6 linked regions of the Homo sapiens genome follow. The protein of the gene in region 1 interacts with the protein of each later gene in a pairwise test. Each region holds a gene or a part of one and is shown on either strand. Other genes may lie near its edges.

Evidence for each region.
Region 2: the proteins of PHYH (region 1) and ACSL5 come close enough for resonance energy transfer, tested with the Homo sapiens proteins (one large-scale study listed by BioGRID).
Region 3: the proteins of PHYH (region 1) and ABCD1 come close enough for resonance energy transfer, tested with the Homo sapiens proteins (one large-scale study listed by BioGRID).
Region 4: the proteins of PHYH (region 1) and IDI2 come close enough for resonance energy transfer, tested with the Homo sapiens proteins (one large-scale study listed by BioGRID).
Region 5: the proteins of PHYH (region 1) and TMEM135 come close enough for resonance energy transfer, tested with the Homo sapiens proteins (one large-scale study listed by BioGRID).
Region 6: the proteins of PHYH (region 1) and TOM1L1 interact in a two-hybrid assay, tested with the Homo sapiens proteins (one large-scale study listed by BioGRID and IntAct).

What each region holds. Positions count from the first base shown.
Region 1 is NC_000010.11:13,288,945-13,293,871, reverse strand, and holds part of PHYH (phytanoyl-CoA dioxygenase, peroxisomal isoform a precursor), read left to right. Parts: intron 1-1,959; coding exon 1,960-2,041; coding exon of another isoform or gene 2,042-2,047; intron 2,048-4,927. UniProt on the Homo sapiens protein: Catalyzes the 2-hydroxylation of not only racemic phytanoyl-CoA and the isomers of 3-methylhexadecanoyl-CoA, but also a variety of other mono-branched 3-methylacyl-CoA esters (with a chain length of at least seven carbon atoms) and straight-chain acyl-CoA esters (with a chain length longer than four carbon atoms).
Region 2 is NC_000010.11:112,408,117-112,413,043, forward strand, and holds part of ACSL5 (long-chain-fatty-acid--CoA ligase 5), read left to right. Parts: intron 1-305; coding exon 306-405; intron 406-1,390; coding exon 1,391-1,569; intron 1,570-2,346; coding exon 2,347-2,379; intron 2,380-2,467; coding exon 2,468-2,519; intron 2,520-3,339; coding exon 3,340-3,413; intron 3,414-3,785; coding exon 3,786-3,863; intron 3,864-4,927. UniProt on the Homo sapiens protein: Catalyzes the conversion of long-chain fatty acids to their active form acyl-CoAs for both synthesis of cellular lipids, and degradation via beta-oxidation.
Region 3 is NC_000023.11:153,737,452-153,742,378, forward strand, and holds part of ABCD1 (ATP-binding cassette sub-family D member 1), read left to right. Parts: exon of another isoform or gene 1-1,127; intron 1,128-2,640; coding exon 2,641-2,786; intron 2,787-3,122; coding exon 3,123-3,268; intron 3,269-4,927. UniProt on the Homo sapiens protein: ATP-dependent transporter of the ATP-binding cassette (ABC) family involved in the transport of very long chain fatty acid (VLCFA)-CoA from the cytosol to the peroxisome lumen.
Region 4 is NC_000010.11:1,022,691-1,028,198, reverse strand, and holds the start of IDI2 (isopentenyl-diphosphate delta-isomerase 2), read left to right. Parts: upstream 1-2,339; 5' UTR 2,340-2,383; intron 2,384-3,454; 5' UTR 3,455-3,475; coding exon 3,476-3,617; intron 3,618-5,415; exon of another isoform or gene 5,416-5,423; coding exon 5,424-5,508. UniProt on the Homo sapiens protein: Catalyzes the 1,3-allylic rearrangement of the homoallylic substrate isopentenyl (IPP) to its highly electrophilic allylic isomer, dimethylallyl diphosphate (DMAPP).
Region 5 is NC_000011.10:87,323,849-87,328,775, forward strand, and holds part of TMEM135 (transmembrane protein 135), read left to right. Parts: 3' UTR 1-4,927.
Region 6 is NC_000017.11:54,958,959-54,962,990, forward strand, and holds the end of TOM1L1 (TOM1-like protein 1), read left to right. Parts: exon of another isoform or gene 1-1,607; coding exon 1,608-1,668; 3' UTR 1,669-1,669; exon of another isoform or gene 1,670-2,276; 3' UTR 2,277-2,306; coding exon of another isoform or gene 2,307-2,368; 3' UTR 2,369-2,998; downstream 2,999-4,032. Other genes in the region: COX11 (cytochrome c oxidase assembly protein COX11, mitochondrial), read right to left, coding at 3,775-3,957. UniProt on the Homo sapiens protein: Probable adapter protein involved in signaling pathways. Interacts with the SH2 and SH3 domains of various signaling proteins when it is phosphorylated. May promote FYN activation, possibly by disrupting intramolecular SH3-dependent interactions.

The sequences.
Region 1 (4,927 bases):
TGATTTTAGGAGGTATAAATTATTTTAATAGATATTTATTTTTAAATGTATTGGAAAAAAACTCAACAGTCTACCAAACTCATGATTTCAAAAATGTTGTTAATTAGGACAAGATTAAATAAAAAGGCCAGGCGAAGTGGCACTTTGGAAGGCTGAAACAGGAGAATCACTTGAGGCCAGGTGTTCAAGACCAGTCTGGCAACATAGTGAGACCATTGTCTATATTGGAAAAAAAGAAAAAAACAAAGATTGAATAAGAGAAGTGAGCTAACTGCCGGGCGCGGTGGCTCATGCCTGTAATCCCAGCACTTTGGGAGGCCGAGGTGGGCAGATCACGAGGTCAGAAGTTTGAGACCAGCCTGAGACACATGGTGAAACCCAGTCTCTACTAAAAATACAAAAATTAGCTGGGCATGGTGGCGGGCGCCTGTAATCCCAACTACTCAGTAGGCTGAGGCAGGAGAATCGCTTAAACCCGGGAGGCAGAGGTTGCAGTGAGCCGAGATCATGTCATTGCACCTAGCCTGGGCAACAGAGCGAGACTCCATCTCAAAAAAAACAAAAACAAAAACAAAAAACAAAAAACAAGTGAGCTAACTAAGGGTAGGGAAATCATTGGCTAAATAACAGTACAAGTTATGTCAGAAGTTGTGAGGATGGCTCTTGAATGGCTGGCATTTAGAAAATCCCAGCCTAGATGAATACAAAAAAATACCAGGCTTTATAAAAAGCAAGTGTGTGCCTGACTGCTAGGCTTTTAATAACCTTTCCAGGGTTTCATACTCAAATTGCCAATATTCCTTATACACAAGAGATCAAAAAGTGAGGAAGCAGTAGAAGGTGGCTTATTTTTTGGAGTCTTTTTTTTGCAGAATCAAAATTTGAATATCATGGGTTGTTTTATTTTCTTCTTCTTCTTCTTTTTTTTTTTTTTTTTTGAGACAGAGTCTCACTCTTGTTGCCCAGGCTGGACTGCAGTGGTATGATCTCAGCTCACTGCAACCTCTGCCTCCTGGGTTCAAGTGATTCTCCTGCCTCAGCTTCCCAAGTAGCTGGGATTACCGACGTGTGCCACCATGCCCGGCGAATTTTTGTATTTTTAGTAGAGATATGGTTTTGCCATGTTGGCCAAGCTGGTTTTGAACTCCTGACCTCAAGTGATCCGCCCGCCTCGGCCACCCAAAGTGCTAGGATTACAGGTGTGCGCTAACGCACCCGACCTCAGTGTTGAGCCCTTTCTGCTTTTTCCCTCTCCGTTGCTGGGTTCTGTACACAAGGTAGCGGCAGCCCAGCTCCCAGGCCCCACGACTAAACCAGCTCTCCCTGTCACGGTTCCCCATGTTAGCCTTTTCTTCATAATGCAGTGTCCCTCGGCCACTCTGACCCATGTCATTACTGGGTTAACATTTTTCATCTAACTCCTGGGACCTGCTTTGCTTGTTCACTCTTGCTTCCCCATTTCCCGTCACCTCCTGGTTCCCAGATCTCAGTAATGAGTTGTCAAGTGCCAAGCGTCCCCGATTGTCAAATGTCCTCCAAGCCACCATTCTGCTTTCTTCCGGGCTATTCATGACAGCTGTGAATTGTATGGGACTCTTCGTATGCAGAGGCTCCAATGAGGAAGAGGAAACTGCCCTCCCACTGAGCAACCTTCTGTTGCTTGGGTTGACAAGAAAGCTATATTAATATCTCATCGGAACTCCTATGTTTCTTGTAGAGAAAAAATGGTTTCATTCCCAGCTAGCTCAGAAAAAGCCCATTTCATTCCGTGTTATAGATTTAGAATGATTTCCAATGGCTGGGTTTTTCATGCTTTGTTTGCAATGTTGTGAAATACCGCTTGGTTCTTAAACTATTGCCTTCTTGGTTCTTGTGTGGATAGCTACTGTACTTTGTACCAGTTGTCAATACTTCTGATTTCCCACAAGGTTTGTTTTTGTTTTTTTTTTGCTTTCTTAGATTCTGAAATATGTGGAGTGCTTCACTGGACCTAATATTATGGCCATGCACACAATGTTGATAAACAAACCTCCAGATTCTGGTAATTGTAAGGGAGAAGAAAAAAAAATGGTTTCATTAAAATGTGTAAGGTTGGCTGGGTGCAGTAACTCATGCCTGTAATCCCAGCATTTTAGGAGACCAAGGGAGGAAGATCTCTGAGGCCAGGAGTTTGAGAGTGGCCTGGGCAACATAGTGAGGCTCTGTCTCTAAAAATAAAATTTAAAAATATCCAGGCATGGTGGTATGCACTTGTAGTCCCTGCTATTGGAAGGCTGAGGTGGGAGGATCACTTGAGCCCAGGAGTTGAAGGCTGCAGTGAACCTATAATGGCATGCTCTCCAGCCTGCGTGACACAGTGAGACCCTATCTCTACATAATAAATAAAACAAAACAAAACAAAATAATAAAATAGCTGATGTCTAACTGTAATCATGTGTACAACTGTCAAACTTTGGATAAGGAAGTCTTAAAATAACTTACACTATAACAACAGTGAAATGTGGTAATTATTTCAGATATTAACTGTAGGACTGTTGCTGAATTTTCAGATGACTGGCTCCCCAAAAATGCAGTTTAACCGACATAACTGTTCATATATCAAAGGTTCCTGCCATTCGACGTCTCTAAGCTTGATCAGCTCTTTTTAGCTGTGATAGTGTGGATTCTTGCATTCCTGATAGGAAGACATTATTATTACTAACACAATTAAAATTGTTACTATGAGTCACAAACTATAGTGGTCTTTTTTTTTTTTTTTTTTTTTTTTGAGATGGAGTTTTGCTCTTGTTGCCCAGGCTGGAGTGCGATAGCGCGATCTTGGCTCACTGCAACCCCCACCTCCCAGGTTCAAACAATTCCTGATTCTCCTGCCTCAGTCTCCCAAGTAACTGGGATTACAGGCATGTGCCACCAAGCCTGGCTAATTTTTGTACTTTTAGTAGAGACAGGGTTTCGCCATGTTGGTCAGGCTGGTCTCGAACTCCTGACTTCAGATGATCCACCTGCCTTGGCCTCCCAAAGTGCTGGGATTACAGGTGTGAGCCACCGCGCCCAGCCTATAGTTGTCTTTAAAATGTCTTGTGCTTGCTAAAATGTAGAATCTAAGACCTCATTGGCAGACAGACTGATTGAGAAATATAACCCAGGTTTCTGTATTTTAATAACCTTCCTCAAGCTGGGCGTGGATGTGCACCTGTGGTCCCAACTACTCAGGAGGCTGCGGGGGGAGGATCGCTGGAGCCCAGGAGTTCAAGTCCAGAGATTGTAGTGCAGATCACTTGGACTACACTGGGAAATTCCTCTGTGCCTGCAGTAAAAATCAGCCATGAGAGAGTCCCCCTATCCTTTCTGCCTTTTCTTCCTTCTGATCTGCAGGAGGGGTTTATGTGATAGAAGGCAGCTTAGCATTACCAGGTCTCTCCCTCCTTGAGGAGAGCAGGTGTTCGGGAGCCACACTCAGGGAGCAAACCAGGGGAAAATGTCAGTGTGGTCATGGGCACTCCGACTGGACATGGAATGACTATAGTTGTGGGGGGTGAGGACCTCTTAGATAACTTTTTTTATTTTTATTTTTTTTGAAATGGAGTCTTGCTCTGTTGCCCAGGCTGGAGTGCAGTGGCTCAATCTCGGCTTACTGCAACCTCTGCCTCTGGGGTTTGAGTGATTCTCCTGCCTCATCCTCCTGAATAGCTGGGATTACAGGTGCCCACCACCACACCCAGCTAATTTTTTTTTTTTTTTTTTTTTTTTTTTTTTGGTATTTTTAGTAGAGACAGGGTTTCACCATGTTGGTCAGGCTGGTCTCGAACTCCTGACCTCAGGCAATCTACCCGGCTCAGCCTCCCAAAGTGCTGGGATTACCGGCGTGAGCCACCGTGCCCGTCCTGTTTTGTGTGTTTTTTTTTCTTTTTCTTTTCTTTTTTTTTTTTTTTTGAGACAGAGTCTCACTCTGTCGCCTAGGCTGGAGTGCAGTGGTGCGATCTTGACTCACTGCAACCTGCTGCCTCCTGGGTTCAAGCGATTCTCCTGCCTCAGCCCTCAGCCTTCCAAGTAGCTGGGAGTACTGGTGTGCACCACCATGCCCAGTTAATTTTTGTATTTTTGTAGAGACGAGGTTTCATCATGTTGGCCAGGCTGGTCTCAAATTCCTGACCTCAAGAGAGCTGCCTGCCTCAGCCTCCCAAGGTGCTGGGATTACAGGTGTGAGCCACTACACGTGGCTTAGAACTTTTTTTGACATCAGCCACTTCAAAGGGGATTTCAAACTTGACTCCATATCACTCTCTTCAATGTAATTAATGCAACTGGTTTTTGAACATGCATTACTGCATGCTAGGTACTGTGCCCAATCCAGGGTCACAAAAGAATAAAGCACAAGGCCGGGCGTGGTGGCTCACGCCTGGAATCCCAGCACTTTGGGAGGCCGAGGCGGGCGGATCACGAGGTCAGGAGATCAAGACCATCCTGGCTAACACAGTGAAACCCCGTCTCTACTAAAAATACAAAAAATTAGCCGGGCGTGGTGGCGGGCGCCTGTAGTCCCAGCTACTCGGGAGGCTGAGGCAGGAGAATGGCGTGAACCTGGGAGGCGGAGCTTGCAGTGAGCCGAGATCGCGTCACTGCACTCCAGCCTGGGCAGCAGAACAAGACTCCGTCTCAAAAAACAATAACAACAAAGAATAAAGCACAACAGAGATGAGGATGTTATACCGCTTGCTGGAAAATAGTGTGCATAAGTACTTAGCTACCAGCAACCCGGAAGAAGGGAGTGCGGGATTTGAAGATGTGGAGCCAGTGTGTTGATTTCCAATTTGGTGTTTATCTCTCCGGGGCTGATTTTCTCTAGCATTATTTCATTTGTTTGGTTCTTCTGGGGACAGGTCATTGTTTTTTCAGGCAAAGGATAAGAATTCTGAGACCAGCTTTT
Region 2 (4,927 bases), about 99 Mb from region 1:
GGTGAAATCCCGTCTCTACAAAAAATACAAAAATTAGCTTGACATAGTGATGTGTGCCTGTAGTTCCAGCTACTCAGGAGGCTGAGGTGGGAGGATTGCTTGATCCTGGAAGGTTGAGGCTGCAGTGAGCTATGATCACACCACTGCACTCCAGCCTGGGCAGCAGAGTGAGGCACTGTCTCAAAAAAAAAAAAAAAAGCAAAACAAAACAAGACAAAAAACCAGACAGCATTTGTTGGCTGAATGACTGAACTGGTACTCTTCAGTGTGCCCTCCAGTCCTTACTTGAACTTCTCTCTGTACAGTGGATCATCTCCGAATTGGCTTGTTACACGTACTCTATGGTAGCTGTACCTCTGTATGACACCTTGGGACCAGAAGCCATCGTACATATTGTCAACAAGGGTAAAATTTTGCTGTTACATTACAACTTGATTCTTTCTCAATGCTGAGTATTTCTTCAATTTCTGCTTTTTTGTTTATTTGTTTGTTTGTTTAAGCAAACTTGAAATGCTGTGGTCGGAAAATGTTCAAGTCTTTCTAGTTTTGTAGTACTTAGGATATAATTTTCAGGAAAGCTACAAAAAGCCCATGAAGCAGAGATACACACAGAAAGAAGTTTCAATGACATGCGTCAGGGTGACATGGTATGATGATATAGAGACAAGACTACTCACTCTGAACACACTAGATAAAAGCCCAGAGAGTGAGCTTAATTGACTTAATCACAGTAAAGCTACAGATTTAATTTCCTACCTTTGTAAATCCAAGTCAATACAGTTAACCAGCATGTACCAATGTCCATGGTGAGTCTGCAGAAAATAATTGTCGTTGTTAGAGAAACAAGTCCAAATTTGATGGGCAAGTAACAGCCCTTTCACATATCCAACATGTTACCTTCTGTCATGGGACTAGTAGATTAAGTGAGTAAGTCCATTTGCACAGTAAACATCATTTGAAACTTTAAACATGCATCAAAGCAAATGCTAAAATTTAGAATTGTAAAATACTTGTCAGCTAAAAATCCTATTTGCCCCCTTCTTTTTCTTCTATTCCCTACTATCCTCCTCAAATAAAACAGTGATAGAACCACACCTCAGTAACCTGTTTAGGTTATCTGAATGACTTCTTAAGCAGAAGGAATTCTGTGGTTCCTCTAGAAACTGTAAAATCTGCTGGCACAGTTCAAGAACATGTGCTTCTGTTTCAGTTAAGTTCATTTATCATCAATGGAATGTTTCAGGTTGTACATTATAAATCTGATTTGCAGGTGTAATCTCCTTTGGACACCTGTTAGCTTTGAAAACTTTTAAAACCTCTTCCTTCTTGCAAGGCAATCAGGTACTTAGCAGAGAGAGGGAATGACCTCTGGTTCTATTTTGGCTTCCAGCTGATATCGCCATGGTGATCTGTGACACACCCCAAAAGGCATTGGTGCTGATAGGGAATGTAGAGAAAGGCTTCACCCCGAGCCTGAAGGTGATCATCCTTATGGACCCCTTTGATGATGACCTGAAGCAAAGAGGGGAGAAGAGTGGAATTGAGATCTTATCCCTATATGATGCTGAGGTATGGATCTGAAATTTAGCTTGCAGCTCCAATGCTTGTCCAACACCTTGGGCAACTTGCAAGATACCTTCCCAAGAGGACAGTGTTCTTGTTCTCCAGGGGTGGCACGTGAGGAGTAGATTAGACTCATGCTGTGAAGCTCTGAGAATAATTTCCACAAGACAACTTTGAAACTCATGCCAGGAGAGGACAAAGTTCTGTGGCCAGCTGTATGGACTTCTAAGTGGATAATATATAAATAGGGGTTTAGTAATAGTTAAAGGATGTGGCTCCTGGAGCCAGGCTGCTTGGGTTCGCATGCCAGCTCCACATCTGTTAGGCAACCTTGGGCAATCTCATCTCCCTTCTCTCGGTCCGTAAAATGGTGATAAAAATAATCACTACCTCACAGAGGTCTTGTAAAGAGTTAGCTTAATTCATATATGTAGATTTCTCAGGACAGTGATGGATATGTAATAAGCTCTGAAAATGTTAGCTATTCATTTCTTTCAAAAAAGATTTAGTTAGGGCCCTAGATGACTGAAACTTAAGAGTACAATGGGAAGTTTGAACATGCAATCTACCCTCTATAGGTAGATGATTTTCTAGAGAAATCTTATGCTCTTCCCTGGGGCTTCCATTGTTCCTGAATGTTGGCTTCTGGTCCTGATCCAGGTTGGAATTTTGCTTATATTCCCATAGAGATGTTCTCACGGGAAAGGGAGGGAGAGGGCCACATTTATCACAGTCTGTCCATCTCAACTAATGTCTTTCTTTCTTGGTTTTCCATTCACATAGAACCTAGGCAAAGAGCACTTCAGAAAACCTGTGGTAAGTTTTCTTCTGCCTGAATTTGAGCCTTGCCATAGTCAACTCTCAAAGTTCATGGTGGAATAAGCCCTTGTGCTTCCTCCTCCAGCCTCCTAGCCCAGAAGACCTGAGCGTCATCTGCTTCACCAGTGGGACCACAGGTCTGTGCCCATGAAACTGAACCTTAGACCCCTGGTCAGCCAAGAACATGGCTTCAATTCTTGGCCACTGGTAGGCTGGTAAATACTCCCTCTAAAGAGCCCTATACTTAGGGGCTCACAGCCTAAGGCTTCTAAGTGTGAATTCCCAAATGGAAAAACATAAACATAAGTAAATACACTTTATTTAATATATTGGGAGGTGTTTATATTCAATAGATTTCAGGGGTCTTAAAGATGATGTCAGAAAGTCCTTTCCCCCGCCCCCACCAACCCACCACTCTCTTGATTTGACACCGCTGGAATGGTTTCATTCAATCAAGATAACTCAGTGATAGTTCTCCATAAAGGGCTTCAACCCCACCCTACATCCACCCATCTGTTAGAATGCTTAATAGTTTTTAATGTGGTCCATCATGGTCTACAGTTATATTCTTTCTAGTATGCCCAGTTTATAAGGTTTATAACCATATCACTATATAATATTGGTAGATCTGGAATTCCAAACATATAAACAGCATGAGATGTGGGGCAGAGGGACAAGGAGGGTTAACTTGAATTTTTCTTTGCAGCTGTGCTTCTATCTGAAATCATGGCTGTGCTCTGCATAGTAGTAGAAGGCCAACGATGCATTCAGCAGTAGAATCTCCGGGGGCATTAATTATTCCTAAACAGAGGCATATACCATCCACAAAAAGACACAGTGACAGGAAATGCTCTTGGCCTTCTGGAATAAAACCAATTGAATCTAGTTTCTTTCAAGGCCAAAGGCTACCTATTAGCTACATAAAGTATCTTTCTCTCCACCTCTTATTTCCTACAGGTGACCCCAAAGGAGCCATGATAACCCATCAAAATATTGTTTCAAATGCTGCTGCCTTTCTCAAATGTGTGGAGGTCAGTGGTCAGTTGAAAAAGAGGCTCTCATTAAAATGTGAATCTGTCATAAGATTTTTATTTTTGAGGTTAGAGCAGGCAGACACACACACACACATACACACACACACACACACACGTTAAAGGCTGGAGTGTGGACAAACACCAGCGTGTTCTTTGTTTAGAGGACTGTACATTTTCAAGCGTTGGTCTTTTAGGATCACTGCAAATTTCTACACTATATGCAGTTCAAGGCATCTCAGATCTACACAGTGTACCGCCTATACAGCTGTCTGTGGTAGTCCTGGGAGGAGGTAGTTTTAAAATCTCCATTGGAATTGAAAGTTGGCATTAATCTCATGTTGCCTCCTCTTACTTCCCTGGCCTACATAGCATGCTTATGAGCCCACTCCTGATGATGTGGCCATATCCTACCTCCCTCTGGCTCATATGTTTGAGAGGATTGTACAGGTGAGTGTTCTGTGTTCCTAGCAGTATGTGGCAAGGGGGTCCTGACTTGCTATCACATGTTTATTCCAAAGGCAGCTACACAGTATTTACTGTTCTTTCTCCGGTGTGAGAGGTGCAGGCAAGGAGTTGGCTCATGGGAGCCCTAATCATGGCATGGCCCCTCATTTCCTGCAGAGTCTTCCTCTGCTAAGTCTGCATGTGTCCAGGGAGGATAGTACTTGCTCCTGCCTTCATGGGGGTGTGTGAGTCTAGTGACATCACAGCTAGGAGCTTACTATCTATCTGCCCTTAATTCTGAGCTGACACAAGACATTGTCTTCTTTTTAAATTTTATTTTGGTTAGAATTTTTGAAAAGATCTAGGATTAGAGAAAAGGAAGTTCCCTACAGAGGATCAGGGAAGGAGCATTTGATCTACATAAGGTGTGAGATGTCCCCCGCGCCGGTTTTTGCACACCTGAGTGTGTAAGGTGGTGCTGTCAGCATGGTGCATACCGGAGGAGGTCTGCTCTTCTGTGAGTGGACTCCAGGCTTTTCAGGCTATTTTGAGGCTGATTTGAGAACCAAGAGCCATGTCAGCCTTTCAAAAACGCAGGTAGTGTGGTTGGAAAGTTCTCTCTCTGCTCCTCGCTACCCCCAAATGCCTCTTCAACAAGCTCATGGTTGATGCCTAAAATGCCAAAATGCAAGATTCAGTTCTTTGGGCTAAAGTAATGATATCTGATTCATAAAAAAATTGATTCTAAGAAATCTTAAAAAATATTTTAACATAATTTATGAAATTGTGATGGTCTTACGATTGAAGGCAGGTTCTGCTTTAATTGGCAGTGCTTTCTTAGTGCCACATAATGAATTGCGTCTTACAAAGGATGATTATCTTAGACTGTCACACAGACCTGTGGTGGAGTCTGGGGGACCACACAGTCTCAATATCTGTCTTATCTGTCATGCCACCACAACAGAAATAAATGTCCATCCTTTCTTGGGGGAAGGTTCTCAGAGTCCTGAATTGGGAGGGAGGTGCTGTGCAAGAAAAGTGTCTGTGTGCCTCAGCCCACTTCCCAA
Region 3 (4,927 bases), on another chromosome or scaffold:
AGGATTGACCAAGGTTCACCCCGGCGTTCCTGGCCCTATCATCTGATGCCAACTCCCCACACTCCTAAGAAAGCCAAGACCCGGGTGGGGGGGCTCTGGTTCAAACCTTGCCGCTCGACCTCCCTCGGAAGGCCACAGCAAGGAATCCACAGATCACCTGTGTCCCCAGCCAGGGGTTTGGACAGGGCTGGGGAGTAATGGAGTGAGGGGGAGACTGGGGTGGAGGGACAGGTAGAGAAGTGACAAGGAATCACTCATTCATTCACTCATTTAACCAATGTGCCCTGAACTCTGAGCCGGGCACCAGAAACCCGAGGTAAATCAGGAGACCTGCACTCAGGGAGTCTTCACTGTGGAGGGGCACTAAAGTGTTACAAAGGGTCTCCAGGTAGACAGCTGTTCAAGGGACAGTGGGGGTCACAAGAAGAGTGGTCAGAGTCCCTGGGGGTGGTGGGGGTGGGATGAAGCCTTGCCCAGGAGTTGCTGTGAGCGAGTGGGCAGGCAGCTGAGGGTAGAGGAGTGAGGGGCCGTGGGCCTGAGGGGCAGGTCACGCAGGAGGAAGCAGAGAGGAGGGGCATGCCAGGGAGGAGGGGGCCGGCACAGGTGGTTACCCCTCACCGCTCGCAGCGGCCCCTCCTAGGATGTCGGGGGAGCTGATCACCAGTGAGTCCAAGGAAGGTGGTTTCCAGGCTGGCCCCGGGCAGCACAAGCAGGCAGGGGCAGCGGGCAAGCTCATGGGGCCCCTGCGCGCAGGGCCACATATGCTCAGGGAGCCGGGTATGCGAGATGGGGCAAGGCCCAGGCCCCACCCTTCAGGAGGGGACAGTCAGGTGGCTTCATTAGCATCCTGTGGCTGCGGTCACAAAGCGTTACAAACTTTGAGTGGCTTTCCCAGCAGAGATGGCCTCTCTCCCGGCTCGGGGAATAGCAGTCCGAGAGGAAGGCGCAGGCAGGGCGGGCTTCTGCCAAGGACCGAGAAGGTGCCTCCGCTCGGGGCCTCTGTCCCAGCTTCTGCTCTGCTGCCCATCTGCGGGCTTCCCTGGCTTCTGCCACGGCAGGTCGGCCTCAGCCTCTGTCTCCACACGGCGCTCTCCCTCTGGGTGTGTCCGTGTCTCCGTCTCCCCTTTCTGTCAGGACACAGGTCACACTGCATTAGGGCCCACCCCTCTGCAGAATGACCTCATGCAGACCTAACTCATCACGTCCGCAATGACCCTGTTTCCAAATAAGCTCACACTCCGAGGTAGTGGGGATTAGGGTTCCCACATAGGAATTTCAGAGGACAGAGTTCCACCCATGACACTGCCTGAGGTAAGCTAAAGACCACGGCCTCAAGTCTTCCCAGGAGCCCCGTGTAGCATTGTTGTTGTTACCGTGAACTTCACTGACTCCAGGCCCCTGGCCTCCTCCCTGCACACAGCCCGCCTCCAGCCTGGCCGGCATTTTCCCAAAGTAGGCATTTCCTAGCTCCAGCGAGGACCATGGAGTCAGTGAATTGAGGAGCCTGAGGTCCATGATGCAGAGCCCAGGGGCCACTGTGGCATCTCTGGGCCACTCTGGCACCTGGGGAGGCAGTGGGGTCTGTACTGTCAGTCTAGAGACATAAAGAAAGTGCTTTTTGGGCCGGGCGTGGTCGCTCATGCCTGTCATCCCAGCACTTTGGGAGGCCGAGGTGGGCAGATCGCTTAAGCCCAGGAGTTCAAGACCAGCCTGGGCAACATGGCAAACCCCGTCTCTACAGAAATTTTTAAAAATACACAAATAAGCCAAGTGTGGTGGCGGTGCCTGTAGTTCTAGCCACTTGAAAAAAAAGGCTAAAGTGAGAGGGTCTCTTGAGCCCAGGAGGTTGAGCCTGCAGTGAGCCATGATCCCACCACTGCACTCCAGCCTGGGCAACAGAGCAAGGCCCCGTCTCAAAAAGAAAAGAAAGAAACTGCCTTTTGTCCCCAGTGACTCAGGAGGCCAAGGTGAGAGAGTCGCTTGAGGCCAAGAGTTTGAGACCAGCCTGAGTAACATAGCAAGACCCTGTCTCTAAAACAACATTTAAAAATTAGCCAGGCATGGTGGCGTGCATCTGTAGGCCCAGCTACTCAGGAGGCTGAGGTGGGAGGATCACTTGAGCCCAGGAGTTGGAGACTGCGGTGAGCTGTGATCATACCGCTGCACTCCAGCCTGGGCAACAGAGTGAGGTCTCGTCTCTTGAAAACAAAGTGCCTTTCAGGGCAGTTCCTTAAAGGGGGCTGACAGTTGACCCTGCACTTGGATTCCTGGTGAAGTGGGAGTCGGATGGGACTGAGGACGGCGCTGGCTGTGTTGGAACACACCTACTCATTCAGCTGTGGCAGAATAGGCCCTTCCTCTTGTGCTGGCACCATGTTCTCCAGGCGTGTCAGGGCCTGAGGACTGGGCCGGGGCTTGTCCATTCCTGTGTCCTGGGCCAGGCATTTAGCGAGAGCCAAATTTAGCTAGGGCTGTGGACGCTGGACCCCATCCCCCAGGCCCTGCTGTCCCTTATCAAGAGATCAAGAATGGCCTGCGTGCTGGCCTCGGGCATTGGGAGCCTCTCAAGGCTGGTCAGGAGGCCATAGGGTACGGGAAGGGGCCTGCGCTCTCTGGCGTCAGCGGCTGTTGCCCCTGCAGGTGGAGGAAGGCATGCATCTGCTCATCACAGGCCCCAATGGCTGCGGCAAGAGCTCCCTGTTCCGGATCCTGGGTGGGCTCTGGCCCACGTACGGTGGTGTGCTCTACAAGCCCCCACCCCAGCGCATGTTCTACATCCCGCAGAGGTAAGGAAGCCCGTGCGCCTCTCCTCCACCTCTTCCTGCCTGTGCGCTCACACATGGCTTCCTGCAGAGGCCCAGGAAGTGGTGAAGAGTCAGCACCTCAGGAGAGGACACTGAGGCACTGTCCCCAGAGCCAGAGACGGGCTGTGGTTCCTGCTCCCTCCAAACCCGCCCGATCCACTGCCCTGTTTTGGATCTGTGTGGGGTGTGTGCACGGGCGGCGATGTGAGCGTGTGGATGCGTGTGAGCGTGGCATGTGGACACTGCCTGGGAGGCGCAGAGTATCTTGGGGGAGGCAGAGCCGGCCCTTCCCTCCGTGGACACCCAGCTTTCCCACAGGCCCTACATGTCTGTGGGCTCCCTGCGTGACCAGGTGATCTACCCGGACTCAGTGGAGGACATGCAAAGGAAGGGCTACTCGGAGCAGGACCTGGAAGCCATCCTGGACGTCGTGCACCTGCACCACATCCTGCAGCGGGAGGGAGGTAGGAGGCCTGGGGCTGGCAGCCACCCTTTGTCCCACCCTGGCCTCTCCCTTGGCCTCCAGGGAGTGAAGATTACCTCAACATCCAGAGTCTAAAGTGCCAGGTGCCACGGGGCGGGGCAGAGGCTGCTACCAGGGAGGACCAACACCACACAGATGGCCCCAGGTGCTCTAGGGAAGGGGGCACCTAGCAGGGATGTGCACCTCACTGGGGGACCCAGGATACCCTCTCCCAGAGAAAAGAGGTCTGAGCTGAGCCCTGCAGAATGCTGAGTGGTTACCCCGTCCGGAAGCCAGGGGCAGCAGGGCGGAGTGCGTTCCGAAGGCTTGGTGGTGCGAGAGGCTGGCTCACAGAGGGCCCTCGGGACCAGGCGGGAGCCTAGGCTTTCCCTGAGCAGGATCAGACGCTCTTGGAAGGACCATGGGGTGGTGGGCAGGGGCAGCCTGGGAGGGGCAGGCACATGTGTGCAGTGATGGCTACTGTCAAGAGGTTTGTGCAGACGCTTGGAGGGGGCTGGGGCCAGCAGAGTCAGGTGGATTCAGAGATGAGTTCACTGAAAAGGAGGCCAGACTGAGCTGTTGTCTTGTCCTGGGCTTATCAAGGAATACTGCTTGTCCACAGTGTCTGTCGGGCCGGAAGAGCGGAGGAGGAGAGGGGGCTGCAGCTACAGGGACACAGTAGATGGAGTGTTCAGTTCTGTCTTTGAATTCTGAGCCTCTGGGTTCTGCTTCCAGCCTGCACTGCTGGGTGCGAGATGGCCCTGGGCAAGGACCTCGCCTTGCTGGGGCTCCCCTTCACGGTTCAAGGGCACGGGCACCAAGCCCTCCCTCGGTGGCAACATGAGAAGAAGTGGCTCCTGCAGGAAATGGCCGGGGTGTTGTCACCTGCCTGTGGAGGAAGCGGGGACACAGGTGGCAATGGCAGTGGAGCAGCCCCTGGCCCGGCCCTGCCTCTTGCTCCTGCTGCCCTCAGCCTGGGAGCACGTGGCCCCTCCCGCCTCTGTGGCAGCCTGAATGCCCAGGGCCTGTGGCCGGCCAGCATGAGCCATTAGGATGGAGTTGAGCTGCGAGGAACAGAACGGGCCTCCCCGCAATAGTGGCTAAGATCATCTGTGAGTTTATCCTACTGAGCTGTTAGGTCCCAAGAGAGCCAGGCCACGGTTGCCAGGGCTGGCCCTGCTCTGTGAAGGCCCCAGGGCTCGAGGATTTTCTACCAGGTCACTCTGCTGTGTTTGGCCTCCGTTCCCAAAGTCACCTCATGATCCAGGAGGGCTGCTGCAGCCCTCACATCATGTCCCAGGCTGTAGGATGGAGGAAGTAGAAGGGAAGGGGCAAAAGGTATGTGCCTTCTTTTAAGGAAGGTTCCAGAAGCCGCCATATTGAATACTTACAGTTATATCTCATTGGCCACAACTTAGTCTCATGCTCACACCTCATCACAAGGCCACCTGGGAAGCGTAATCTCTACTCTGGGTGGCCATATGCCCTGTTGCCACTTCTAGCCCTGGGCCGCTGGGGAAGGCAGCATGGGCGAGAAGACAGGAAGGGCCGCTTCTGCCGCAGCGCCCCGACCTAATGGAGCAGCCGGCTCACCTGCTCGTTCAAGCAGCCCACTCGAGCCTTGCCAAAGTGCTGACACGGGGCAGTGACAGGAGGCCCA
Region 4 (5,508 bases), about 12 Mb from region 1:
TTACAGGCATGAGCCACCACACCTGACCCAAGAAGTGACTTTTGGTAAGTACATGGATCACCCATCATTCTAGGTGGAAAGCAGAGGATTAGGGTTGTACAATGCCTAGGAGATGGAGTGATGGTGTTGGGAGTGGCTGTTCTCTTCTGCATGCAGCAGTTTTCTCAGAGATCTGAGAAGTTTACCCCAGTGTCGACGATAATGTGTCAGTATTTCTGGAACATGGCAAGCCCTTTCCATCTGTGGGTTTAAGTCATCTTGTGTGTCTGGGATATTTTTCTTTATTATTATGGCTCTCTTGTTCAAGGATACCCCTTTTAGCACATGCTGTATTTGTTTTACCCTCTCTTTCATACCTACAATACTTGGCCTACTCCTTTTTAACTCTTTCCACTTCCATTTCTTTTTACCTGCTTTTCCCAGTCTTGGCCTCCATGTCCTTCTCTATATTTCACTGATATCTAGAGCCCTTTCTGTTGCTTCTAATTTGCCTTAATCAGATGTAATCATCTATTCCTAGAGTTTATTCTTAACCTCCTACCTGCAGCATTATAGGTCATCAACTGTCATTCTTAAAGTTGTCATAACCTCTCTTAAGAAAATTCTCCGCATATAGCCTAATCAAAATGTCTTCCTTCCTTTCCTTTATAATGTTTTTTGTGTGCTTTATGTGTCAGAACCTTGTACCCAGATCAACCTAGCAAAGGGTTTCCCTCCTTTTTTATCCCCTAGAACATTTTACAGAGAATGACAATTCCTTCCTTGAAATTTTGATAACATTTGCCTCTAAAGCTTTCAGTGCTTAGTTTGGTGGTGACGATCCCAACATGTTAAACTGCACAGATTCTGGGGGCTCAGCTGCATCTGCAGCCACATTGCCTTGGGCAGGTAATTTACCTCTCTGTGCTTCAGTTCCTTATCGATGCTGTGATAATAAAAAATAACGCTTATCTCAGAAAGCTGTCGTGAGGACCAAATGAATTAATATACATTAAACTCTTAAAATAGAAACTGGCACAAAGGAAGGACACAATGTGTGTCTGGCTGTCTTACTATTATTATTATTACTATTAGAGTTGTTGGATTATAATAGGTACGGTATTGTATATTAGTTTCTTCCTCAAAGCCTAATTCATAGACTTATTTATTATTTTTTAGATCTTTAAAAGAGTATCATTCTCCCATTCTTACTCTTCTGACTGCAAAAGAAACAAGTTTCAAACAGACCATTTATTCCTGAGTCTCAGAACTGATTTCCAGGGAAAACATTTCAGGCATAGCCTTTTGATTTTCTACGTAACTAAAAATTACATGCATAAAGGTGAACTTATGGAAAGACAAAAGAGCAAAACACATTAATCTTTTTATAGAATATTACCCATCACTGCTGCTGTGTTATTTTTGTTCTGTATTATCCGTGCCAAAGTCAGCGGAGTCATGCGTCCATCGTGCTTCTCTCCTCATATTCCCTGAGAGAACCGACAGATATGGCAAACATTTTTTTGATATTTTAAGAGACCCTACTTGCAAAACTATTTGGCCTAGAGCTTTAGTTGGTAGATGATATTTGGAATATGATAGGCAAGAAATTATACAGTTTTTTAGCTCTTCCAAACACATTGGTTTCCAAGGTCTTGCATTTATTTATCGATTTTCAGCTATCCTAAGAATTTATTCAGTAATTTTAGTCACAATGTTTATTATTTTTCTCTTCCATTTGCCACCTTTATTTTTTCTTTTTAAAATCTGGGATGATATATACAGCAAGTGAATTAAAAAGATGCCATCGAACGGCGCCGTGGCTCACACCTGTAATCCCAGCACTTTGGGAGGCCGAGGCGGGCGGATCACCTGAGGTCAGGAGATGGAGACCAGCCTGGCCAACATGGTGAAACCTCGTCTCTACTAAAAATACAAAAAAATTAGCTGGGCGTGATGGCGGGCGCCTGTAATCTCAGCTACTCGGGATGCTGAGGCAGGAGAATCGCCCGAACCCGGGAGGCAGAGGTTGCAGTCAGCCGAGATCACGCCACTGCACTCTGGCCTGGGCAACAGAGCTAGACATCACCTTAAAAAAAAAAAAAAAAAGAAAGCCATAGAGTAGAAAATAACTTACCCTAGGTTTAAAAACTAAAAGCATTTTTTAAAGTGAGATTGTGTCAAAACAATTTTCTATTATCCCTCAATTGAGAGGGAGAAAGATAGAGAGAAAGAGATGGAGAGATAGAGAGAGACCGGGGTGTGTTTTCTTGTTAAGAATACAAAAATATCAGATTGCCTTAGCTGATATCTTTCTACATCCCCAGGGTATAAAAGGGCCCTGGTTCAACTTGCACATTGAGTTCCACATCTGATACCCAGGAGTCTCCAGCTTCCAAGAGAGGTTAGTGCATATGTTTTACCTTGTGGGAATTCTTTCTTTTATGATCTAAATTTGTACATATTCAGTAATTGTTTTCTCTGCATTTCTATTGTATCTCATGTCCATGCATTAAGTCAAACAGCCTTTTGCAAAGAGGAGGAGCAGATTGCTGAAAATATTAACAGTAATGATAATGGACAGACGTGAATGCATTTTTTTAAAAAGTAGAAAAGGATGATGAGAAGGTTTTACATGAAGATAAATGACCCTGAAAACATTTTTTTTTTTTTTTTTTGAGACAGAGTCTCACTCTGTCTGCCCAGGCTGGAGAGCAATGGCACGATCTCGGCTCACTGCAACCTCTGCTTCCCAGGTTCAAGTGATTCTCCTGCCTCAGCCTCCTGAGTAGCTGGGAATACAGGCATGTGCCACCAGGCCTGGCTAATTTTTGTATTTTTTAGTAGAGAGAGGGTTCCACCATGTTGGCCAGGCTGGTCTCAAACTCTTGACCTCAAGTGATCCTCCCACCTCGGCCTCCCAAAGTACTGGGATTACAGACGTGAGCCACCGCTCCTGGCCCTGAAAACATTTTGTGAGAAGATCTTCACCTAAGAATCTGCTTGGCTCTGAAGAGGACCATAGCCCTTCTGTGGGTGACGTAGCTTTCCTACAAGGCTGTGTGTTTCTCCACGTCTGATCCAGGTCCAGTGGTTTTGCACAGGGCTGCACTTTTCCCCAAAAACTTGTACAAAGAGTGTTACCTACAGTTTACCTCGGTGTGTTTTGTGTGTGTGTGTGTGTGTGTGTGTGTGTGTGTGTGTGTGTGGTGGGGCGGGGATTCTTTAACTCGTCACTAAAGGAAACCTGGAAAACATGAGGAGTATGTATGTACCCAAGATTTCCCGTTCAGAGAGACACCACATTAGAAACAGATGATTCACCTTCCATATCTCAGAACTGTGCTGCTTCAACACAATTGCTGTCACTTGTAGAGAAGGTGTATGCTAAATCCTAATGTGGTTGGTAACACATAGCAAAAACGAGATGGCAATATCTTTCACATAAAGAGGCATTTGTGTGCATCTATTTCAGGTCGGGTCACAGCCAGCAGCTATGTCTGACATAAATCTTGACTGGGTTGACAGGCGTCAGTTGCAGCGCTTGGAGGAAATGCTGATTGTTGTGGATGAGAATGATAAGGTTATTGGTGCCGACACCAAGAGGAATTGCCATCTGAACGAAAACATTGAGAAAGGTAGCCCCCGCCCATTTTCTCTGTCCAGTTCCCAGGGTTTTCCCATTTTTCCCACCCGACGGCAACCTAAGAAGAGAGTCTAGGCCTTTCCGGCTAGGAGGCGACCACTGGGTCACCTGTGTGCTTGCTGTGCCGTCTTTAGAAGGCTCGGGGAGCAGCACCTGGATGACGTCTTTGCTTGGTCAAGCCCTTGTCAGGCTCCTGCACCTTCTCCTAGGCATCCGTGCTCTTCCTCGTAAGATCCTGTTTCAGCAAGAATTCTACCAGGTTGTTTTAGCGAGAACCCTGACCTTGGCATCTGATTAAATTCCTCAACCCCGTCCCTCCCAGGTGACGTCTGATCACGCAGGCCTGTCTTCAGCAGGTCTTGTTAGGTCGGTGTAGCCAGAACCCCCTTCCCACTGATGTTTTCTCTTAGTAACTTTTAATCCATAGGCCCCAGCCTGCTCCTTGGGTGTTGTGTGCAGTTAGGCTGGTTCTCCATGGAGGTCTCTTTCCCCTATTGAAATGGTTCTCAGTAAAGTCAGACTTTCCTGCTTTAACTCCTGTCCAGCTCTGGTTTTCTTTGACCATCTTAAGCCATTTTATTATTTTTTAATTTTCATTTTTGTGTCTTTTTTATAAACACATAATAATTATGCATATTAATGGGGTACATGTGATAGTTTGATACCACCATGTCATGCATAATGATCAAATAGGGCATTTTGGGATATCCATCACCTCAAACATTCATCATATCTTTGTGTTGGGAACATTCCAAATCCTCTGTTCTAGCCACATTGAAACATATAATACACTGTTGTTAACTACAGTCACCCTACTGTGCTATTGAACAGCTGATATTATTCCTTCTCTATCGCGGTATGTTTATACTTATTAACCACCCTCTCGTCATCCCTCCCCACTGCCCTTCGCAGCCTCTGGTGTCTAGCATTGTGTTTTCTGCCTCCATGAGATCAACTTCTTTAGAGCCCACATAGCAGTGAGAACATGTGATACTTGTTTTTCTGTGCCAGGTTTGTTCCACTTAACACAATGGCCTCCAGTTCCATCCATGTTGCTACAAATGACAGGATTTCATTCTTCTTTTTTTTTTTTTTTTTGAGACAGAGTCTTGCTCCATTGCCCAGGCTGGAGTGCAGTGGTGCAATCTCAGGTCACTGCCAGCTCTGCCTCCTGGGTTCATGCCATTCTCCTGCCTCAGCCTCCCGAGTAGCTTGGACTACAGGCACCTGCCACCACGCCCAGCTAATTTTTTTGTATTTTTAGTAGAGACGGGGTTTCACCATGTTAGCCAGGGTGGTCTCGATCTTCTGACCTCGTGATCCGCCCACTTCAGCCTCCCAAAGTGCTGAGATTACAGGCGTGAGCCACCGCACCCGGCCCGATTTCATTCTTCTTTTGTGGTGGAATGGTATGCCACTGTGTATCTAACCCTCATGTTTTCAACCCTTCAAACCTCCACGGACACAGGTTGATCTCATATCTTGGCTGTCGTAAATGGTGCTCAGCACCCAGGAATGCTGCGATATCTCTCTGATAGACTGATCTCTTTTATTTTGGATATTTGCCCTGGTAGTGGGATTTCTGGGTCATCTGGTAGATCTATTTTTAGTTTCCCGAGTGTTCTAATCCGCTGAGATTCTGAAACGTTGTGTTTGGGCATCCAGCAGTCCCCTTTGCCCTGCCCAGGTGCCACAATCACAGGCTTTTCTACGAGAAACAGACTGAGGACAAAAAGCACGAAGGACAATCGTACAGACTCCAGGCATGCACTCACACAAATGGCACTTACCTTTGCAGGGCTGCTGCACCGAGCCTTCAGCGTTGTCTTGTTTAACACCAAGAATCGAATCCTGATACAGCAGAGGTCGGACACGAAAGTCAC
Region 5 (4,927 bases), on another chromosome or scaffold:
TGGTTTAGTTTTATTTTCCCATAAATTCTGCTTTTGCTTCTGTAACTTTTTTCTTGAACTATAAGCATAGTCATCACTCAGTTGATATCTAGTTTATTTTTTGCCTTCATTCGTTGTTTAGTCAGTTGTTATTTAATTTAGAATTTTATATTTTTTTGGCTCTCAGATTTTATAATGAACTTTTATTAGACTGAACATGTATGTTTTTGATGGAATCCAAACTGAGCAAATGTCACACAGTATTTTCTTGTTGTGCTCGAGTGTTCGTCTCCTTGTAGATTGTATCTAGGCTAACATTTCATTTAGTTGTTAATGCTGACGTAATTGTTTCCTGCTTATATTTTATCATATCCCTGAGCTTCTGTGTGCTCTACATTTCATAGGTAATGAAAAGCAATGTCCTTTACTCTCAGGGAGCTTCGTCCACTTGCCTGTGTCACAACCTCTCCCTTGGTGCTAATTAGGAAGCTTCTTGTGGGACTGAAGGGAACTGACCACTGGAGCAATGGCCCAAATGTTGTTTTTGGAGCAGAGAAATTATTAGCCCAGAGATTCCTTAAATTCTCCGTGTGATTTATTTTTTTATTTTTTGAGTTGAGGTCTAGCTCTGTTGCCCGGGTTGGAGTACAGTGGTGCAATCATAGCTCATTGAAACCTCAAATTCCTTGGTTCAAGCAATTATTTCCCCTCAGTCTCTAATAGCTGGGACAACAGGCATGTGCCACCATGCCTGGCTAATATTTATTTTATTTATTTTTTTTTTGTAGAAACAAGGTGTTGCTATGTTGTCCAGGCTGGTCTTAAACTCCTGGCCTCAAGTGATCCTCTTGGGTTGGCCTCCCGGGACTCTGGGATTCCAGGTGTGAGCCACGGTACCTAGCCATATTTTTATTTGTATGAGTATTAAGTAGTTTGACACAGCAACAAAGTTGTCCTTTGTTTCCCAAAGGCAAAAGTATACATTTCTTACTAAGATATCTTATAAACATTCTCTCTCCTAACACCTCCTTCTAGTAATCATTTTCACATAGTAGAATACTTCACTCAGCTGAAAATGAGTGGCCAAGAAAAAAATACAAGAAAAGGAATAAGAAGTGATTATTTTCTTTAGGGCTGCACTTTGAATGTGATGAGTAATAAGGTTACCTTCATTGTGGAGGTGATGTTTACAATTGCCTCCAGCCCTTTACTATTGGTGCTGAAGCCACCATTGGTGCCAGCTCTATAATTTCTTCTTCTTGTGGAATTAACAAAGAAAGGAGTGTCAAGGACTGAGATGACCCTCAGATTGGGGGGCTGTCTTAGATTCTAGGGCTTTGTAGTACTATGTTTCTGTTTAAAGTAGTGGCCTCAGGTGACTTTGTAATAGCCCTGTAGTTGCAAAAAGGGTAACTACAAAGAAATGAAACTGACTCTAGTGTGTGTGACTTCTGGAAACAGAAGTGGGGCAGTAAGTTGGCCATGATATAGCTAGTGTCATAGGACTACAGCAGAGTAGTGAGTGAATGGCCTTAAGCTTACAGCTGTGGTGAATAAGAATGTGTGCTATTTTACACACAGAAGAAAATGATTGACTTTTGGTTGGAGGAAAGAATTTATATCTGGTCTTTTGGAAATTATTCTGTTGCTGTTTTATGTGGGCTCTCTCTCTCTCCCTCTCTCTCTCTCTCTGTCTGTCTCTCTTGCTGCTCCCTCTCCCTGCCACCTTGTCCATTCTCTGCTTGCTGGTGTTACTTTATGTTAACTAGTCTCCTTGGACTTCATTGCAACCTTTTAAGCCAGCCGTTCAAGTGAGAGGCTCTGGAGTGATCATAACGGTGATAACAATGGAGTAAACATTTCCAGAGACACTGATTTTTTTTTTATATGCTCTGTTTTTCTTAGGCAGGATGATGTAGAAGATAATTGCACAGATATGGAAGGAGATGTTTCTCTGTATGTGAAGCCTTTAAATCCAGAACAATTAATTTCTTCTCTTCTTAAAACCCCGTAACATCACTTGACTCTGGAATTTCCTATTTTCTTTTACTTTCTCCATTTTTTTTCCATCTGTCCCTCCTACGAATATGTTTTACATGAAATAATGTATTGGGTTTTATCTTTTGTCCCAGCAGACCTGAAAATCCCAGTATATTACCACAGACACACATACCATCTGGTCACCAACAGGGACATCAGGGCCAAGAGCAGTTTATACTTCTTTCTTTAGCTCACAAACTACTATAGCTTGCCTGTTCAGTTTTTTTTTTTTTTAATATTCAGTTTTGTGCCATACTCTCCCCCACCCCCAGCCTGCTGCCTCTGCAGAGCATAACATTCTAATCTTGTCAGACCGTGGATAATAGGATGTTCCCTGGTCTTGGCATAGAGGCCATAGGCATACAACATGCTTTATCTGCCTTGCTTAGACTCAGCATCCCTTTCTGTCTTGAGAGATTCAGGCTTCCATAAAGTAGACCTGTAGACCTATGTTGGCTGAGGTCACCCTGCATTACTACTTTCCTCCATCCCTGAACTAGGACCAGTTAATTTTCGAAGTCTAGTTCTTCAGTGTCTATTAAACTTTTTCCAGTAGTTAATCGATCTCTTAAATTAATTTTCTTTTCAGATTATTTTTGGTCACCTAAGAGGACCCTGAAGCTATAGTGCCAAAGGTTTAAAGCATGAAGTACATTCTGTGGTTGGTCATTATGGGATTGGATGCCAAAAGGAATGGGAGAGAAGAGACTATAAACATATTTTAAGCCTTATCTCTTTTCTCCTATTCTTTTCTTTACCTTTCCTGGCCCATGCTTTCCTGCCATATCTTTGCTATGTATTTCTTCATCTTGAGCTCTCAAGGGAAAAAACAGGAGTCCTTATTTTTCTATTTATTTCAGGGAAAATTGAAGGTAAATAATATCTGCAAAGCTTCAGGAAGAAATTCAGTTGCATCTGAATCTGAGTCGGCAGTTTTTGATAGCCTGTCACTGCTCAGGGATAGCACTAAGGCTCTCTTCAGAACCAAAGGGCAGGATAAATAAATCTATGAAACTAGAGGCATCATTGAATCATCTGAGGACCTTTTTTTTTTTTTTTTTTTCACTAAAACGCTTCCTATAACTTGGATTAAAATTCAAAAATGGGATTGCAGTCATTGTTAATTGCTCAACTAGTGGCAGTTTTTCCTTGCTGAGGGAACACTGATGTTGTTTAAGACAGTTACATGCCTAGCCCCAGGGATGAATCATAATTGTTCTAGGCCTTTCATGTCTTTCCTTTCTTCTTGTCCAGATACTTTTCCAACCAGCCTTTACTCGGAGGTGTTCATGTGACCCTGTTTTGGCCAATAAAATGTAATGGAAAATCTGGGAAACACTTGGGAAAAATCTTCCCTCTCTGCTTAAAGGAAAGTTCTTTTTACCTCTTTTTCTCTTGTTCAAGGTATTAGTATTAGTCAGTAGGGTCTGAATCTGTGGCAGCAATCTTGCAGACATGAAATGAAAAGTACAAACATGAAAAACCAGCATATTAAAGATGCCAGGTCAGAAAAATAGAAAGAACCTGCTTCTGTGAGCCACTGAATGGTGCCATTAACCATCTGCATTTGAGCATTTTGAGAAAATAAACCTCTATTTCTTAAAGTTCTGTATCAGTCAGGGTTTCCCAGAGAGGCAGAACAATAGGGATAGAGAGATACATAGAGAGAGATATGAGAGGGATAGAGAGAGACACAGAGAGAGATATGAGAGGGGATTAAGGGAGTTGGCTCATGTGATTGTGGAGGCTGAGAAACCCCACCACAGGCCATTCATAACCTGGAGACCTTGGGATGCTGGTGGTCTGGCTCAGTACAAGTCCAAAAGCCTTGGAACCAGGGAAACTGATGGTGTAATTCTCAGTCCAAGGCTGAATTTTCAAGTCTGAGAACCTGGGGGTGGGATGGGGGAGTGATAGTTTTAAGTCCTGGAGTCCCAAGGTTAGAGGATCTGGGGTCCTAATGTCCATGGGCAGTTGGAGAAGAGTGTATCCCTGCTGCAGGGGAGAGAGAGAAGCCAATTCTCCTTTCTTCTGTTTTTATTCTACCCAGGCCTCCAGTGGATTGGAGGTGCCTGCCCATATTGAGGGCAGATCTTCTCTGCCTAGTCCACGCTAACTCACATGCCAATCTCCTCTGGAAACACCCTCACAGACACACCCCAAAATAATGCCTTACCAGTTCTCTAGATATTCCTTAATCCAGTCAAGTTGATGCCTAAAATTAACCATCACAGGCTTTATGGCTCTATTACCCAAGAATTCTGTTACTTTCAGCTGAAAACATTTCTAATGGACATATTCCAATTCTGTATAGATCAGATCTCAGTTTCATTTCCCATTATATCCTTCTCTCTCTTGATTTAGAATTCTCTTTTTCTCCACTCTTCTGTGTATGCTAAAATACTGTCAATCTCGTCTTTGAAGGTTTTGCTCATCTTTAAAAAATCTTAGTTGATTATGTTTTATGTGTCATTTAATTAAGGAATGAATTTGCTTATTTTTATTTCAGTAGCTTTTGGGGTACAAGTGGTTTTTGGTTGCATGGATGAATTGTATATTGGTGAAGTCTGAAATTTTAGTGCACCTGTCACCAGAATAGTGTGCATTGTACCCAATATATAGCTTTTTATTCCTTCCCCTTCTGAGTCTCCATAGTCCATTATATCACTCTGTATACCCTTGTGTATCCATAGCTTAGCTCCCACTTACAGTTGAGAACATACAGAATTTGATTTTCTATTCCGGAGTTACTTTACTTAGAATAATGGCCTCCAGCTCCATCCAAGATGCTGCAAAAGACATTATTTCATCTTTTATTTTTTATGGCTGAGTAGTATTCCATGGTGCATATATACCACATTTTCTTTATCCACTCATTGGTCTATGGGCACTTTGGTTGATTCTGTAT
Region 6 (4,032 bases), on another chromosome or scaffold:
GGATCACAGAAATAATGGACAATACAAATGAAGATAAACTTGAAGATTTAGTGATGGGAAAATGAGGAAGTTTCCATATCAAGACATTTAATGTATTAAGAATGCAGTTTCTACCAGAGAGTTTAGAGGTTTGAGGAGAGTGAAGAAGACTGAAATCGTTTTGAGGGAGATGAGACCAAACTTTTTAGGGAAACATTAAAATTGTAGCACCATTCTGGGGCCTTATGAACTTGGTGATCATGGTTTCATAGCGCTGTGATTTTTGAGATTTTTCCTCAGCCATGTTTTGCTATACTGTATATATGAATGTTGTGCTTTCAGGTATATTTTCCAGCTACAGACATATGTAAGACGCATATAAAGAATTGAATGGGCCTGGCATGGTGGCTTATGCCTCTAATCCCAACATTTTGAGAGGCTGAAGTGGAAGGATCACTTGAACCTGGGAGGTCGAAGCTGCAATAAGCCATGATTGCACCACTGCACTCCAGCCTGGGTGACAGTGACCCTGTCTCAAAAAAAAGAAAAAAGAAAAACGAATGAAGGATGTCATTGAAAAAATACAATATAAAAAAAGTACAGAAATGACAGTGATGAGCTATAGATGGCTGAGGAGTCTGGACTGTAATCACATAGTTTAAATAAGCTGGAAGATTAATTTTTTTTTTTTTTTTTTGAGACGAAAGTCTTGCTCTGTAGCCCAGGCTGGAGTGCAGTGGCACGATCTCAGCTCACTGCAATCTCCGCCTCCTAGGCTCCAGTGATCCTCCGACCTCAGCTTCCTGAGTACCTGGGACTACAGGTGTGTACCACCACACATGATAATTTTTATGTTTTTTGTAGAGATGGTATTTTGCCATGTTGTTCATACTGGTCTTGAAATCCTGGACTCAAGCGATCCACCCACCTCAGCCTCCCAGAGTGCTGGGATTATAGGTGTGAGCCACTGCACTTGTCCTAATATTTTTTTAAAAAGTTTGAAACCAGAAGAAACTGAGGAGTTTTTTAAGCAAAACATAAACTGTCCAAATTTGAGTCATATTTCTCATTTCAATCACAAGAAAAAATTAATTGGTTCTATGAAATACATACTTTTAAGAGACATAGGAATTGCAACAATAAGGCCGGGTGTGGTGGCTCACACCTGTAATCCCAGCACTTTGGGAGGCCGAGGCGGGTGGATCACCTGAGGTCAGGAGTTTGAAACCAGCCTGGCCAACAGGGTGAAACCCTGTCTCTACTTAAAATACAAAAAAATTAGCTGGGCATGGTTGTGTGTCCCTGTAATCCCAGCTACTCGTGGGGCTGAGGCAGGAGAATCACTTGAACCTGGGAGGCAGAGGTTGCAGTGAGCCAAGAAAGCACCATTGCACTCCAGCCTGGACAAAAGAGTGAGACTCTGTCTCAAAAAAAAAGAAAAAATGAAGTGCAACATTAGAATTTAAATAAACTAGAATACACACTTCAGGGCAGAGACTTATTTTTACTCATATGTAGCCTGAACTCCAAAACCAGCTCAATTTTTAATTACAGTGCTGGCAGTTAAAAACCAAAATAGCACTTTGAAATTGATACATAACCCTTTTGCTGTGATGGCTTTGTTTCAGAGCTATTTATGAAGAAATTGATGCTCACCAGCACAAAGGAGCTCAAAATGATGGTGACTGAGGTAAAGACTTCAACTTATACAACTTAATTCCATATTCCATATAATTTCAGTATAATTATCACTTTACATATTTAGTATTTAAATTTTCTAAGGGCCATCTGAGTCTGACACTTTGAAATATGAGTTCCCCTGAATCATTCAAATTGTGCTGAACCATTGTTCACTAATGAGAGTCATTCTTTGTGATTTTCTCATCTGTAAATAGTAAGGCTTGGGAATACAGTAGTTTATGGTATAGAAATATTAATGCTAACAAAATAGATGAGCAATAGGAGTAGCACTGAAATCAGGCATTTGTTTTTCATATGCAGTTAATACTTGTTAACCGGTACCAGTAGACCCATTTACCGTTAGTCCTCCAAATAGGTCTGAATTTTTCCTATTTTCAGCACTACTAATCCCATGTATTTACTATTTAATGGTCACCAATGAACTATCAAAACTTATTTATTCCCCTTATACCCTCCCCTATGGAAGAAGCACATTCTTACCTTTCTTCTACTAGACTGTGACTCTCCAGCTTCCCAGTAAAGACAAGAGAGTTATCAAGGAATGGGGAAAGAGAAGGACAGGATGAATACTGGCCATTTTCTTCTCTTTATTTTAGAAGAAAGTGGATGATCAGCTCACTACCACATCAAAGGTGCCAACTCTCTAAAACGTAGACTCTGTGCAGCTTTGAAGCCTGGAAGACAATACCTACCAACATGTCAAAGCCATGGTGGCACATTTCTGCTATAATGAAGATTAAATAGAATAACAGTTCCAGGATAACACTGATTCCTGACAACAGCGTGAGATTTCAACAGAACTTGTTTGGAACAAATACTCACTTAAAACTTCAGCAGAAGAAAAATTACTTAGTCCTTAGGCCAACCAATTTAACTGCAGTGTCATGTTTCACAGGCCTTCCTACATTTAGAAATCGTCACACAGCTGTGATAAGAGTAGATTATTTTACTATGAAATAATTCTGAATAGATGAAAGCATAAAATGTGAGAAACTGAATGTATTATTCAGGAAGAATACTGAGTGCCTTCATTTAACTAAAGTTGAATGTAAAAGTCAATTTGCACTTCTTTATAATCCTCTGGTTTAGAATTATAAATTGTTAAAACCTTGATAATTGTCATTTAATTATATTTCAGGTGTCCTGAACAGGTCACTAGACTCTACATTGGGCAGCCTTTAAATATGATTCTTTGTAATGCTAAATAGCCTTTTTTTCTCTTTTTACTGCAACTTAATATTTCTATTTAGAACACAGAAAATGAAAATATTTAGAATAAGTTGTACATTTGATGACAAATAAATCACTATTAAAACAATTTAATACTTTTTTTTTTTAACAAAGGTTTGTTTCCAGAAGAACTTTTGATGTCAGTAAATCTTCACAATCCCACCTGTACATTTTAACATTCATGGACTTGTAATGGTGATGCTTTGGCTAACAGCCTAGTAGATGTATTTTATTTCAATTTTATGATACTACAGTTTCAAAGTAATTATTCAGAACTCTGAATATAAAATAGCCCTAAACCTTAAAGGACAAATCAAATTTGAAATAAGAATTTAAATCTTTGGACAAGCTGTTAGGGCTTAGTGACTCCTCTTCTACTTTGAGCTTTTAAAATACTGACTATTCATAATGAAGGAAAATAGCAACCAACTCTTTTAGACACAATAAACATGGTTAGAAGTTCTGGCCTATGACTTGAAACAAATAACCCTGAGCATACATTTTTGAAAAACATTGTCAGATTCATTGCTGTAAGTATGAAGAGTTAATAATCTGGAAGGGAATTATGGAATTAAGCTGAACCCATGCCTGCATATTTAAAAAACAAAGCGGCTTATTTTAATAGTATCAAACTCTTCAGTATGGTATTGAATAGTCAGTCATATATTCTAGCTAGGCATATGAGTTTCTTATGATAAAAGCTGAACTTGTTCTCTCAAGTTTAAGTGAAAAAAATTAGTTGAGAAAAAATAATTATTTAAAATATAAGCCTTCATATTATTGTACAATATTTCTCCTTTGAGAAGATAGGATATATGATTTTCCCAAAAATCACAACTTTGAAGGAAGACTTAGTTGCTGACTTCAATTATATCCTGGAACTGGCAACTTGTGCCCTTCCTTTGCTTCAAAAAAAGTGTAAGAAAGAGTGATAAGATCAACTTTAATCATTCTTGGATCTTCAGCAAATTCAGGATCAATGTAGAAAAACACTGGCATATCTACTTCCTCTTGGGGATTAAGCCTTTGTTCTTCAAAACAGAAGCACTGGAAATTATAGAAAGATTTTAATAACATTTCTATTCTCGTATTACATAACAGAAACTATACAGTTCTTTTATC